Homo sapiens: one gene and its partner. The protein of the gene in region 2 purifies or fractionates together with the protein of the main gene of each other region. This does not show direct contact. Each region holds a gene or a part of one and is shown on either strand. Other genes may lie near its edges.

Region 1 (3,500 bases), on a different chromosome or scaffold from region 2:
TCATTTAAGTAACCGGAATGATGACACGGTCCCTAAAAGGCCAAGCAGTCTAAGTGTAGTAAGTATCGTTGCTGTTATCTTCTTCTTAGTTATACTAAGTTCTTCACAATTAGCAACAAAAACTGACTTGAGGCAGGAAAAGCAGCTGTCCTTTTTTTCAGAGAATGACTGAACAGAATCTTGCTTGTGACTATCAGTGTGACTGAGGCCGGAACAGCGTCACTGTCCTTGCTTGAGCTCCATGCCCGACAATTCTGATTCATCAGATTTGGGAGAAGAGTCCAAGCATCTGCATTTTTAAAAGTTTCTCATGTGATTTTACTATAGCCCCAGGTGAGAACCACCGCATTACAGAAACTGAGAGCTGGAAACATGTCCAGCATTCAGTTTATCCACTGAGGCCAGTACAAGAAATGCAGCAGGAAAACAGACTTAGGACTACCAACGTTCCATCGGCGCAGAGCCCTCTCTAATCCAATCATGTTTAAGCCCTGGATTTAATCAGGACTTATACAATATGTCTAAAGAAAGAGAGTCAAATCAGCCCATGTAATATGCAACCAGCCTTGTGGTCTCACCAGATGGTGGCTTCTGCTCAGTCCGGGGGTCATTTATCTAAAGCTGTGTTATGATGCTCTGTCTGCTAGTCAGGGAGTCCTCCTTAAAATTTTAGAAAGAAAGTCATTAAACTAAGCACCTATATCTTTGTCATGTCAAATCGAAATGCATAGAAAATGAAAGAGGAGAGACTAACCTAAAAGACTGAGGTTACTATCTCAACTGCAAAACAGAGAAGCTACCTCCAAGCAGATGCCCAACCAATGTCAGATAACCTGCAGTCTGGGAAATCTGGAGTCTCTAAGTTTTGTTCTTTAGATGAACAGGTCTTTACCTTATATCTTCTTCTATCTTTGCCTGAGCTTCAAGGTCAAAGGGATCAGCAGAAAACAGACGAATCCTTTCTTGCTCTCTCCGGGCTCGGTCCTGCTGCTGCTCCACCAGGACTCTAGAAAATTTCTCTACAAAAATAAGGGAGAAAAATCTTAAATATCACTATATTTTCAACGTTTATCAGTACTTTTCCACACCAAACAATTTATCAAACTACATCTGTAAGAGATGCAGAGAGGATGCCTAAAGCTTATTTAAAATGAGCAATTACATTTACTTTCTGTTCTCTGAGTCAAGGCTATTTCATCATTTAAATTCAGTGTAAAGAAAGTATTTGTGGCTGGGTGTGGTAGCTCATGCCTATAATCTCGACACTTTGGGAGGCTGAGGTGGGAGGACCGTTTGAGCCTAGGAGTTCGAGACCAGCCTGGGCAACATAGCAAGACCTTGTCTCTACAAAAAATATAAAAATTAGTTGGGCGTGGTGGTGCATGCCTGTAGTCCCAGCTACTGTTGGATGGGGGTTCAAGGGTGGGGGGATGGCCTGAGCCCAGGAGGTCGAGGATGCAGTGAGCTGTGATCGCACCACACACTCCAGCCTGGGTGACATGGTGAGACCCTGTTTTTTTTTTTTTAAAAAAAAAAAAAAAAAAAGTATTTGCAAAAATTTTTTATAAGAAGTTATCTATCATATTGTTTCTACTCAGAGGTAACAACTTTCCAATTTAAAATGGTGGGGAGTGACCATGTGGCAGATCAATGTCTCCACTCCTCCATTCCTCATTGTTCTCATTATCCTACTACCTAGAAACAAAATACAGCATTATATAATCTCCTTTTCCTCTTCTAGTTTCATTTCTTTTATAACATGCCCTGCCTTAAGCCAGATACATTAAGTATAAACTATTTTTAGTCTACCTATATTTTGTGTGTGTTCTGATGAATTAATAGGCAGGAAAATTAGTAGAGAAAACACTGCTTGCTATAAGATGTATGTTACAACAAGAACCTATTTTGCAATTTCTTTTTTTTTGAGATGGAGTTTCGCTCTTGTTGCCCAGGCTGGGGAGCAATGGCGCAATCTTGGCTCACTACAACCTCCACCTCCCAGGTTCAAGTGATTCTCCTGCCTCAGCCTCCCAAGTAGCTGGGATTACAGGTACCTGCCACCACGTCCAGCTAATTTTTGTATTATTAGTAGAGACTGGGTTTCACCATGTTGGCCAGGCTGGTCTTGAACTCCTGACCTCAGGTGATCCACCGTGCCCGGCCTATTTTGCAATTTCTTAAATGGTGGTACATTTAAGTGTGCAAACTTAAATGCCCCATCATCACCATCTTTGGTGATTAGATATGCTGATATAAGAGATTAAAAGATATTATGACAATGGTTATCTGAACTACTAATGCACACAATACAGATGGATCTAAAAAGCATTAAGTTGAGTGAAAAGCCTAACACGAGCTGGGAGTGGTGGCTCACGCCTGTAATCTCAGTACTTTGGGAAGCCGAGACGGGTGGATCACGAGGTCAGGAGTTTGAGACCAGCCTGGCCAACATGGTGAAACCCAATCTCTACTAATAATACAAAAATTAGCCGGGTGTGGTGGTGCACGCCTGTAGTCCCAGCTACTTGGGACACTGAGGCGGGAGAATCGCTTGAACCCAGGAGGCGAAGGTTGCAGTGAGCAGAGATCGCGCCACTGCACTCCAGCCTGGGAGACAGAGTGAAACTCCGTCTCAAGAAAAAAAAAAACAAAGCCTAACACGAAAGAGCAGACACTCTATTATTCCATATACATGAAGTTTAAAAATACGGGAAACTAAACCATAAGATTATCAAAACAGTAGTAACCTATAAGGAGAGGAGATTGACTAGAAAGCAACACAGTGGAACTTTCTGGAGTGAGAGAAATGTCCTGTGTCTTGATTGGGGTTACAGGAGTTTGTCAAAACTCAAGGAATTGTATATTTAAAATCTGAGTACTTCGCTTAAGGTAAAGATTGCCAATTTAAAGACAGTCAATTGAGGAATGAGTCATTAAGTGTCTGTTATGTTTTTAGACTTAACCCAATTTAACTCATAAACCCAAGAGTAAAATGAGAGTAATTTACAGAGAAAACTCGATTCATAAAGATGGCTACAAGTTAGCTGGGTGCAACTGCTCATGCCTGTAATCCCAGCACTTTGGGAGGCCAAGGCAGGCAGACTGCTTGAGCCCAAGAATTCGAAAGCAGCCTGGACAACATGGCAAAACTCCATCTCTACAAAAAATACAAAAAATAACTTGGAGTGGACTGAGGTTATGGTGATTCCATTTTGCCATACAGGGCACTGAACCTTCCTGGCATCAGCTGGCATCAGCTGGCTTGTTGATGATCTCTTTAATTGAAGATCTAACTAAGGTTAAAATATCGGTACTGGCTGGGCATGGTGGCTCACACCTGTAATCCCAGCACTTTGGGAGGCCGAGGCAGGCGGATCACGAGGTCAGGAGATCGAGACCATCCTGGCTAACACGGTGAAACCCCGTCTCTAATAAAAATACAAAAAATTAGCCAGGTGTGGCAGCATGCGCCTGTAGTCCCAGCTACTTGGGAGGCTGAG
Region 2 (3,500 bases):
GTGAAAACCCAGAGGCAGAAAAAACTTAGGTGTGATAAAAAAAAAAAAATGTAAGAGAAGCTGGTTTACCCGGAATATCCTGAGCTTGAGTGAAGTAGAAATACAAAAGTTTGGCAAGGCTGGCAGGATTAAAAACATGAAGATTTTGGAGGAAGACTTTGTTAGAAACTGGAATTTATGCTAAGAACAATGGCAGTAAGCCACCAAACATTTTTTTGCCAAGAAAACATGTTCTGAATTGACAGTTCCAAAACATGACTGTCCTATGGAGAATGAATTGAAAAGATGAAATTATAGAAGGGAATATGCTGGAGGTTATGGCAGAATTCAGATGGCTTGATCAGGAATAATTACAATGGAGATGGAGAAATGTGAAAAAACAAGAACATAAGTATGGAGGAGGAAAAGATAGGATTCACTCTTAGAACACATGTTCCCAGCAGAAAAGCGAAGAATTGAGGATAACTGCTCAGTATGTGGCTTAAAACACCTATGTAGGTGCTGGTGCCATTTAATAAAATGAGGGTAAAAGAAGCCTCATACCAACCAGTAAAACACACACACAAAACAATATATGACCATTACTAAGTTAGTGCAGCATAGACACAAAGGAGATAAAAGTCAGAAAAGAGGGTGGCCAGGCGCAGTGCTTCACGTCTGTAGTCCCAGCACTTTGGGAGGTCGAGGTGGATGGGAGGAGTTCAAGACCAGTCTGGCCAACATGCTGAAACCCTGTCTCTACTAAAAATACAAAAAAAAGGATTAGCTAGGCGTGGTGGCAGGTGCCTGTAATCTCACCTACTCGGGAGGCTGAGGCAGGAGAATCCCTTGAACCTGGGTGGCAGAGGTTGCAGTGAGCCAAGATTGGGCCACTGCACTCCAACCTGGGCAACAAAAGCAAAACTCTGTCACAAAAAAAAAAAAAAAAAAAAAGAGAGAGCTCCAAATGTGCCCTGGCATAGTCAAAAACTAGTTCTTGGAAGTAAAACAAGAGCCGACAGCGAAAGAGGGCAGTATCTGGATGTAAAAATGCAACGTGATCAAATGCACAGATGTCAGTCCTCATGTTATTTGACATTATCTGTAGCATTCAATAAAATATATGTCTTCCTCCTCCTTGGAATAATTTTGTCACTTATTTCATGGACATCTTCTGACTCTCCCACCACAACCCTGATACTTTTTCTATGTGGCTGGGTTCTCCTCTTTTGAATCTCTGAATATATGTGGACCTCTTCTTTCTTCAAGCAACACTCACTCCTCATGTCTTCTCATCAAGTTCCAGTGCTTTGATGGCCCCTGCCCAGAGGGGAATGAAGCCATCACATCAAATGGAACTCACAGAAAAAGAGAAGTCAGTCAAACGTGCAGCAATGGAGGCGATAAGAACCTCTACTACCATGGCCTACTGTGAAGTGGGACTTCAAGAGTAGAGTGTTCAAAACAATAAAAATTAACAGGAGCAGCTGAGACATTCAGACGTAGAACAGAGTAAACCGAGAAGACTCAAGGCAACTCCAAGGTGACCAGGCACCGGAGTGATGAGCAATACAGCAGAACCTAAATATAATGCACAGGGAGGGAAAGGATTTTCCAGGAGGAAAGAGAATCACAGTTTCTAACCCTGAAGCTGAGGGAAGAAGAATTTCACAGAATACTCGTCCAGGGTGCTGGCAAAATATAGAATAAGAAGGCAGGTGAGATTACAGAAAAGGAGATATCTGCATGAAGCTATTTGTCAGAAGACACAGCTGAAATCTTTAGTATATGTGAGTATACTACATGATGGTAGAAACAACTGGGAGAAAGGAGGATTCTGGTTTCACATCCTGGAAGAAGGAAATATTCGGAGAGCTGTCCTGGTGGCTGGCGACACGCAGCGGGTTAGAGTGCAGATGAGACGTTAGTAGCAGACATGCTACTTTGCGAGTCTCCAGCAGGGGCCAGAGAGCTCAGGCCCTGAGAGTGAATTAAACTTCTACCAGGAGAATCAGCAGAAGATAAAAAAAAAAAACAGAAGCTGGAAAGGCGGGGAGCAGTGGGTGAGTAAGTCGACAGAGATGCCCCAAGAGACATGGTGTGGAGGCATTGACGTGAGCTAAGGTGAGGTGATTTTCAGTGAAGGAAATCAGGCCTTTCCAGAGGGGCCGGGATACACTTTTAAGCGACAGAAGTGCTAAAAGTAATGCAATCCAGCCAGGCGCAGTGGCTCATGCCTGAAATCCCAGCACTTTGGGAGGCCAAGGTGGGTGGTTCATGAGGTCAGGAGTTTGAGACCAGCCTGGCCAATGTAGTGAAAACTCGTCTCTACAAAAAATACAAAAAAATTAGCCGGGCCTGGTGGCCGGCACCTGTAATCCCAGCTACTCGGGAGGCTGAGGCAGGAGAATCACTTAAACCTGGGAGGTGGAGGTTGCAGTGAGCCAAGATCACATCACTGCACTCCAGCCCAGCCACAGTGCGAGACTCCGTCTCAAAAAAAAAAAAAAAAAGGCAACATAATCCAGATGGGTTACGAGGGGAATTTCAAAGCAAGTAAGGAAGGGGCAAAAGTCAGGAGCAGGCTGGGAAGAATGGAACCAGGTAAGAATTCAAGGTCTTCGATGACATGGACTGAAATCAGATCCAGAAAATAGAAGAAAGGAAGACATTATCCTTTGAGAGCCGGCTCTATTAGGGATGGACACAGATGCAGAAAGGCTGATTAGGTTTCTGGGCCACCAACTACTGTGAAGTCCTCTAAAGAACACTTTAAAAGCATCAACCCTTCTCCGACCAGCTGGGATTTGCATGCCATTTCTCCCCATTTTCTTAGTTTTCACTCACTTACCTGGACAGATTTGACTGTGGGCTGCTCCTTCTGCTATCCCTGGGGGTTCTCCTTGCTCCAACTTGAAGAGCGAATCTGGCTTGGTGCCTCGATACCCTGTAAATGGGAGATCACTGAACACTTGGCACGTGTGCTTGGGGAATGGATGAAGATGGAGAGGGTTATGTCTCAGGAACCACAGCATTTGCACTTTGATAAAGCAAAACTCTTTCACTCAGGAAAAGAGCACAACCACTTCGTGCCAGGGAGGAAAATAACAGTCTGCGTGACACACCCATACCCATTAGGATGGCTACTATCAAAAAAACAAACAGACAAACAAAAACAGAAAATAACAATTGTTGGCAAAGATGTGGAGAAACTGGGACCCTGTGTACTCTTGGTGGGAATGTAAAATGGTACTGACATTGTGGAAAACTGTTCCTCAAAAAATTAACAATGGAATGACCATATCACCCAGCAATTCCACTTCTGGGTATATACCCCAAAGAATGGAAAGCAGGGTCTCAAAGAGATTATTTGTACACCCATATTCATAGCAACATGATTCACAAGCGCTAAAACATGGAAGCAACCCAGTGTTCCTTAACAGATAAGTGGATAAGCAAAAGGTGGTATATATATATACAAAAGAATATTATTCAGCCTTAAAAAGGAAACTCTGGCACAT

What was found. Proteins that work in one complex are often made in the same cells at the same time.
Region 1: the proteins of ZNF577 (region 2) and DDI2 purify together in Homo sapiens (affinity purification with mass spectrometry; one large-scale study listed by BioGRID and IntAct). This does not show direct contact.

What each region holds. Positions count from the first base shown.
Region 1 is NC_000001.11:15,630,958-15,634,457, reverse strand, and holds part of DDI2 (protein DDI1 homolog 2), read right to left. Parts: intron 1,020-3,500; coding exon 893-1,019; intron 1-892. UniProt on the Homo sapiens protein: Aspartic protease that mediates the cleavage of NFE2L1/NRF1 at 'Leu-104', thereby promoting release of NFE2L1/NRF1 from the endoplasmic reticulum membrane.
Region 2 is NC_000019.10:51,874,452-51,877,951, forward strand, and holds part of ZNF577 (zinc finger protein 577), read right to left. Parts: intron 2,927-3,500; coding exon 2,831-2,926; intron 1-2,830. UniProt on the Homo sapiens protein: May be involved in transcriptional regulation.